Linked DNA regions of Homo sapiens. The protein of the gene in region 1 interacts with the protein of each later gene in a biochemical or structural test. Each region holds a gene or a part of one and is shown in the gene's direction. Other genes may lie near its edges.

What was found.
Region 2: of the proteins of CCDC186 (region 1) and FBXO7, one has a biochemical effect on the other in vitro, tested with the Homo sapiens proteins (one large-scale study listed by BioGRID).

The regions. Positions count from the first base shown.
Region 1 is NC_000010.11:114,171,139-114,175,664, reverse strand, and holds the start of CCDC186 (coiled-coil domain-containing protein 186), read left to right. Parts: upstream 1-1,461; 5' UTR 1,462-1,650; intron 1,651-2,399; exon of another isoform or gene 2,400-2,524; intron 2,525-4,526.
Region 2 is NC_000022.11:32,484,811-32,488,626, forward strand, and holds part of FBXO7 (F-box only protein 7), read left to right. Parts: intron 1-257; coding exon 258-399; intron 400-2,934; coding exon 2,935-3,018; intron 3,019-3,816. UniProt on the Homo sapiens protein: Substrate recognition component of a SCF (SKP1-CUL1-F-box protein) E3 ubiquitin-protein ligase complex which mediates the ubiquitination and subsequent proteasomal degradation of target proteins and plays a role in several biological processes such as cell cycle, cell proliferation, or maintenance of chromosome stability.

The DNA.
Region 1 (4,526 bases):
ATATGTCCTAGGCTATCTTGCATATTTCTTGCCCCTACTGGGAATCAGCACTTAACCTCCAAGAGAAGCCAAGGTAACTTTTTTTGGGCAATGCTCTTTAGAGATCACAATCTGGGGAATAGGAGTGTGCAATGGGTTGGTCACTGTTCTAAGAGTTTTCAGTGGACACACCTTTTTTTTCACGAAAAAAATGTACCATGAGTTAATTCTGATATTTGTAAATTCAAATATAGGATTGCAGAATTTTAATATAATGTCTTTGGTTTATATTTGTATTTCTTTTCTCTTATGGTGAAAAACTTGGTTCACAAAGATATATTTATATACTTTATACTAATTATAAATTCAGAAATATTCAGAAATAGTAATACCTATGTTATTACTGACGAGTACCGAAAACAGCTTAAGGTTTCTTCAGTTTTTTCCCCTTGGATTAATGTCTCCCTAGGAAGGCTTGGTCGATTTATTGTTTTAAAGTCAAATCATTTATTTTCTATGACAAGACACTTTAACTGCAAAATGTGCTTCAGTGTAGTACCTTCATTTAAGGAGGAGTGAGGTGCCATTACACCTCCGTGTGTGTGTTTTGCCAACAGTATCGAAGACGCTTAACAGAACAGTAGTAAGTTTTGCTTTACAAATTCTTACATTGCAGAATCGTCTGCATCAGCTATTTTCATTCATGAGATATGTGTAAGACCTAAACCAAAGAACATCGTTTCCCCGGACTGAGGAGGTTTGCGAAACCTCCAGAGACTGAACTGCTGACCTTCCTTCTCTGGGCCGGGCGAGGCAACTGTACCCAATACACTTTTTGTTGCCATGCTGCGTGCCAGGTTACTCAGCCGGGAGAGGACACTTCCTACCATCAATGCGCTCAGCTTGAAGCCAGAGACGAAGGCACCGACAGTTTATTATTAAACAATGGCAGCAGCGCCACGCTGAAGACACGAACGCGCTGTTATGGAACCCCCAGAGGTCTCCCCCATCGTAGCCTGCTCCAGCCGACTCCGCCCACGTAAGGTGCAAGGTTTCCGCATGAGAGCCGGGAAGCCACAATTTCAAATTCTCTTTTATTGCTTTATGTCCCTGACTCATGCAGGCCAAAGGGTGAGGAGGAGTAATAGCCAACAAGAGCGTCCTGCAGAAAGAAACAGGCTGCGTGGGTCCGGAGGAGCTTGAAAGGAAGAACCCGACCAAAGGGCAGGAGACCCGGCTCTCCAGGTCGCGGAGGCGTGGGTGCCCAGCCAGGCGGAGTGCGGGGCGGGGCCTCTCGGGCCGCAAGGTGGGGCCTCCTGGGCCGGGAGGTGGGAGGTGAGCTCCGCCAGCCCAGCCCACTGCAGACAGGTTACCCAGGACCTCAAGGTGTGCTGCGTCACCCCGCCCGCGCTGCGCTGATTGGTTCCTCCAGGGAGCCCCCGCCCCCTCAGCTGTAACCGGGCCGGCTTCAGTGTCGCCGCCATCTTTGTTGATGTGTCAGCTCCGCAGGGGTTTGGGGAAACGGCCGCTGAGTGAGGCGTCGGCTGTGTTTCTCACCGCGGTCTTTTCCTCCCACTCTTGGCTGGTTGGACCCCGCTATGGAAAAGTTGGCCCCTGAGCCAGAGCTCCAGCAGCCTTGTTAGGGCGTGGCCTGAGGCTTGGATAAGTGGGGTAAGTGTCTGAGGGGTACTCGGGGCACACCGGTGAGTCGCGGTGGCGGTGCGGTGGGGCTGCCAGCCTTCCGCTCCTTCCTGCACGTTCCGTGGCGGGGGCGAGGGCGAGTGCGAGGTGGAGGTCGAGGTCGAGCGGGCTCCCCGCCTGGCTCCTTTGAGGGCGCGGAGGAAGGGGAGGGCTGGGGAACGGGTTTCAAGCCCTTTCCTCTCCCTGCCTTCCTCCTTCGGTTCCGGGACCTTGGAGGTGGCAAAGAGGGGTCAGCGGGGGTCGTGGGGGCTGTGCCTCGAGAGCGTCTGAATTCGAGCCCATTGCCTGGGCTGCGTGTGAACTGCAGCCAAGCCCTACCTGCTCGAGAATCTTTCCTAGACTCAATCGCCTATTTCGTTTTTCGTCTCAAGTTGACTGTATGTGGGTGTTTTATATTTACTGTTGTGAAGACTTGTTACCCTCTTCCAAACACTTCCATTACTGTGATTCTAAGTTCCTTAGAAGTGATTCTTTGGAGTGGTGGATACTGTTCTTTATGTTGTCTTTCAAGGACGTCAAGGCATTTCATAAACCTTGGTTGGTAAGGAAGGGGTTTCAGATTTATGTCTCCATCAGTAATGAAAAATGGCAAAAACAAAACAAAAACCCTTCTACGTGTCCCTAAGTAGCAATCTTGGGAAACAGTGCAGGTGTGAGTATTGCTTAGCTGTTAACAGTTTAACAACTTCACCTAATATTCCCATCTTGATTTTGTTTAGAGGAAAAAGTCCTGGATTTCGAGTCAGAACATCTGGATTAGAATCCTACTTCTTTCACTTGATAATCTTGTTACCTGTGGAAATCAGAAGAGAGAATATAGTAAAAATACGCAGTACAGTCCCAGGTACTTGGCCGTTTTCTCTGCATGTGTGTCATGTTCCTTTGATGCCCAGCTTTTTTTTCTTCCAAAACGATAGGCCGGGTGTTGTCTTCTAAGGTGTTCAGTAAATCAGGGTTTCAAGAGGTGTGCTGGTAGTCATTCAGAAGAAATTAATCTGCTATTATCTATTTAGGTATGCTAGTTGTGGGTGTGGCTTTCCCAACTATCAAGTACACCTTAATATTTACCGAGTGTTCATCTCGTGGGAAGGATTCAGGTTCAAGAGAGATTGATAGTGAAACTGAACTATCTCTGTGTGTAATGTACACTGTTCCCTGTGTAACTTCAATTCTTTATCCAACATTACACAAATAAAAAACAGTAATGATTGGCTAGGTTCATTTTTCTCTTTTATTTCTGGTCTTTTCATGTTATTTTTAATGCAGTGAAGATATTAGATCACGAATCTTGCAGTATTAAGAATTAAAACTTTTTACAGCATAATAGGCAAACGTATGATTACTGAAGATTCTCCCTGGAAATGCATGGATTGTGTTTGTTTTTTAAAGGCCCTGTTAAATTCAGAATAACTGCATATAAACTTAAGGTTTCTTTAAACAGTGGAGATTCCATAGTGTGTCATTGGCTTTTGAGTCCTATTTATTGCTAACGGAAAGGGTTGGCTGGTGTGTATCACAGTGACCACTCTAACCTTTTAGTTCTTTCACCCATAAAGTAGAGTTGTCCTTTAATGCTATGCAGTGACAGCATAGCTAATGATTGCTTAGTATGTTCAGTTTAGAAACATCTATTTGCAGCTTTATGCTGACATCACAGAGTGAAGATAAAAGCATTGCAGTATACTGACTCCAGGAAGAGACAGTAGGTTGAAGCACAAAGCAGCTTTATTTGGAGATTTAGAAAATAATCTTTCCCTTTGAAGAAGGACTGGTAATCTGCACTAGTTTCTCAAATTCATGCAACAGTTTCGTGTTAAAGTAAGAATCCTTACCCTGAAATTTTTTTTCTTTTAGTAAAACTTAGGTTTTTCTTTTATCTCTACCTTAAAATAACTAAAGCTGGTTTTTCAATTTCTCATAAACATATCACTGAGTTTACAGTATTGCAAATGTTATACTTAGTATTCATTTTAGGGGCAGCAGTGAGATCATAGATAATTTAATCTATTGTTTCAAACTGCTTTGAACTTTCTTAGCTACTGAGATTTAAAAAATGTATTTGGGCTAAAAAGTAAGAAAAAGGAAAAATACTGAGATGAAGGGACAGTAGACACAAAGTGGAAATCAGCACCAGCATAGTTTTGATTGGATTGTGAGTGTATTTCTTATTAACATTTGTCTATCATTAAGACACTTGAACTGATAATTGTGGGATTATGTAGACTATGTAATGTCTACCGCACTTACTACATAATCCCACGGTAGACTATCAGTTCATGTTTTTAATAAAGTAGAGCATACCAAATTAACCAACTCTGGCCAAAGGTGTCTTCAAAATTTAAACATTAACCCAAACTTTTTAATGTAATGCAGGCTTATAACTTGAAAAAAAATTTTTTTTAAAGATACTAGGCTTCATTTTGTTTAGTTTTTTGAGACAAGATCTCAATCTGTCACCCAGGCTGGAGTATAGTGGTATGATCATAATTCACTGTAGCCTTGAACTCCTGGTCTCAAGCAATCCTCCTGCCTTAGCCTCCTGAGTAGCTAGGACAACAGGCACAGGCCACCATACTAATCTTTTTAATTAAAAATTATATATTATTATTTTTTATAGACCAGGTCTTGCTATGTTTCCCAGGCTGTTCTCTTAATTCCTGGCCTCATTTGATCCTCCCATCTAGGCCTCCCAAAGTGCTGGGATTACAGGTGTGAGCCACCTGTAAAGGAAGGCCTGAGAGCCTTCCTTTTTGAAAAAGGAACTATAGGTCAGATTTTTTTTTACCTACTTTATTCCTTTTCAGATTTGGAGGAAAATTAGCTGATAATACTTTTCATGTTTTCTT
Region 2 (3,816 bases), on another chromosome or scaffold:
TCAATCCCTGTTTCCATGATGCAGTTTTACCTATTTGAACAAAAATTTTGATTAAAAGTGTTCTAATATATTATCTTATACAATATGGTTATCCTACAATATAAAATATATTGGCAATGTTAATGATTTGATGCATTTTATTAAGAGGACTGTGTGGAGTGATTATTTCAAACAAGTTAGGAGTCTTTTGGATTTTTAATCTTTTTGAGAGTAACACCTTTCTTCATTATTTGTTTCCCTTTCATTTCGTTCCCCAGGGCACCGAAGCCAAAGCACTGTCCATGCCGGAGAAGTGGAAGTTGAGCGGGGTGTATAAGCTGCAGTACATGCATCCTCTCTGCGAGGGCAGCTCCGCTACTCTCACCTGTGTGCCTTTGGGAAACCTGATTGTTGTAAATGGTAATTGGATAGCATAGTCATGGTTGCTGGTTTATGGATTCTTAGACGTTTCTTTCCAAATGTTTTATAGCCACTTCAGTGATTGGCTATCATGATACAGTTGTGAGTCCTTCTCAACTGTATTTAATTCCTAGGCCACTGATAACATGTGTCTGGAAGATCATGGAATATGAGGTTGTTGAGTTGTTTAGGCCAGCACCCTTCATTCTTAGGGCATCCATTTTTTTGATGTCTTAATCTTTGTAATATTTTGCTCTGGGGGATAATATTTAATATTATCCAATATTATCAGTATTTGATAATAGGAGTGAAATGAGCCTATTACACATGAACTCCTTGGAGAATACTTTTTCTTTATGCCTGTGGATGGCTTTATTTTTTTAACGAAGGTCTTGAACTGAGACATGGGGAGCTAGACCTGGGGTCACCATTTATCCAAGTTGGCATCCCTGTGACCAGCAATGCACAACAACAATGCTAAGTTTACTGGGGCCTTAGTAAGTATGTGTTTTATTTGCTGGGCCTCCCCCAACAAATGTCACTCTGTATGAATAACTTTTCCTGTTTATTTTTCATATTAAGAAATTTCACTGGAATAGCAATGCATTCCATCTCTGTGTTTTAGTTCAGGTACCACTTTGTTTCATATCAACTCCTAGTGTTCTGTCATAATCACACATACTGGAGATCCATTTGAATGACTAGGAGCTTTCATTTTTGTTCTGTTTTGTTTTTTGAGATTTATCCTTTTAGTTAGAAAGATAGCGTGGTAAGATTGGGAGGGCTGCGTTTGTTGTTTTTTTATTCAGTATAGCTCATCTTTTTCGTTTAGCAAAGGCAGTTGCTTTGGTAAGCCTTAGGTCAAAGGTTTAGGTCAGAGGTTTTCAGTATGTTCTGTAGCTACTCCTTTCTGCTGAGATGAAAGTTAGGTAGAAGCCCTATCACCACTTAAACCTTGAGCAGCAAAATGTTTATCTGTTTCATTTATTGAAGTTCTGTGTAAGATTCTGTTTGAAAAAATGTTGGTTTTTTTTTTTCCTGCTAAAATCTATTTTGAAAGCTACTGACTCATGCCATCTTGATCTTTGACATGTTGGATAGTTCTCATTCCCCTCTTACAAAGTTTCTTTTTTCTTTTTTTTGAGACAGGGTCTTGCTCTGTCGCCCAGGCTGGAGTGCAGTAGGCAGAGCATGGATCATTGCATCCTTGACCTCCTAGGCTCAAGCAGTCTTCCTCCTTGGCCTCCTGAGTAGCTAGGACCACAGGCGTGTACCACCACACCTGGCTATTTTTTATTTTATTTTTTGTAGAGATGAAGTGTCACTGTGTTGCCCAGGCTGGTCTCAAACTCCTGGGTTTGAAGCAATATTCCTGCCTTGACTTCCCAAAGTGCTGGGATTACAGGTGTGAACCATGCCTGGCCTCTTACGAAATTTCTATTTCTTTAGTCATAAGATTCTTTGAAATGTTATTTAAAAGTCTCAAAACTAGGTTTAATAGCTTTGGTGGTACTTCACATTTGTCAGGACATGACTGTCTGATGACACTAGGACCTAGCAATGTCTATTCAGCAGTTCATCATAATTAGCAAATGTAGCTTTTACTTTGGCATTCTTGTACACAGAGTGTCAACAGTTTCTGCCTTCATCTAATCATTCTGCTACATCACATCATAACTTGCAAGGTTGGAGTTACCAAATAGTAAATGTGTAGTTGCAAATTTTGCCTTGATTTTTTATAAAAGCACTTAATGACGTGTATAATAACCTCTATTCACTAGATTCAGGATACTTAATATAAAAAGAATAACTGCTGAATGTCTTGATGATTTCCTAATTTCTGATGTTTTGTTTCTTTACTGTTCTTGGCAAATCAGCTCTTGGCAGACTTGCATGGCAGCCAGCCGTTCCAGGATTGATTCTTTGAAAAGGAGCAGTGTGTCTTTAAATCTTTCCTTCACCCAAGGCATCCTGCTTGGTGCACATGTGCATAAGCACATCACTGGGCTCTTTCATGGAATGAGATGAAGTGCGCCTTTGTATACATGATTAAAATTGAACCCTCTGGTGATGTCAAGTATATTTATCCTTTGGGTCTGGAAGAGAGATGATGCTGTGAAAACTAGCAAGATTATTTTAATGAACAAAGGAAGACTCATTGCCAAGGGTTAAATAAAAAATAAATGGAGTTTTTAGTGACTTCATTAGAAATAATGATTTTATTGTGTTTAGTTGCCTCTGATTAACCTTGTTGCATATCTTTAAGTTACTAATAAGCTGCTGCCTAGTGGATTTTATATAAAGATGCTTACTGTAGTTTTTAAAGGTGGTGTTGTAGAGTGATTTTACTTCATGTGATGCCAGGTTTACACTTTTGAACTTGCTATCAGAGAAAGAAATAGGCGAAGAACAGTTTGTTTTGTATAATGTGTCCTTAGTATATTAGGAGCTAGGAAATGCAAGCCCATACTAAAAAAGAAAGGCAGTTGATGAAGTGACAGAATTCTTTATCATCTTTCTTTTGTTTATTTACAGCTACACTAAAAATCAACAATGAGATTAGAAGTGTGAAAAGATTGCAGCTGCTACCAGAATCTTTTATTTGCAAAGAGAAACTAGGTAATACAAACATTATTTAACTTTTGGGGTGAAACTCTGTGAAATTCATATAAGAAAAAAATCTGAAAGATAATGTTCAAAAGACTGAAAATTTCTATATGAGATTAAAGCATATTGAAGACAATGTGGTTTGTTTAAGAATGCAAAGGTTTAAAAAATGTGAAAGTTTTGCTTATAATTTGAGGAGTTTGTTTCTTTCCTGTTTTTCTTAGGGTCATAGTGTGCTGAATTATATTGTTATGAGATAACACTAGTATGTAATTTATTACACTCTGATGATAGTTCATAGTTTCTGTACTAATCTTTGGAGATCTCCCTATTGAGATCTCCATATTGGTATTTAACCAATATGGAGGGGATCTGTGTTTCATGAAAGTAATTCAATGTCAAGTTCATTATTGAAGATTATTGGAGGAAAAACTACAATCAAAATGTTTGTTTAAACCTATATAAATTTGATGGCTATTTTATACAGATTGATACTTTACCAAAGGTTTGCATTCTAGGTAAGGTTTTGCTTAAACTCTATAAAATTATTAATAGATACAAAGAAGACAGGTTTTCCCTTTTATCATTTTTCAGTTAAACCAAACTGTGAGAGGCAGTTATAGGTGGTTGGAGCAGAAGAGATAAGGTGGAGAGGGGAACTGACATTTTTTAAGTGCCTGTTTCATTCTGTACTTGTGCCTGTACATATGTTATTCCATTTAATCTTCTTAGTAAACTTAGGAGGGTTTTAAGAGCCTAGTGGGAATGTTGTGGTACAATGGGAAGATGGCATTTATAGCAGTCCTTTAG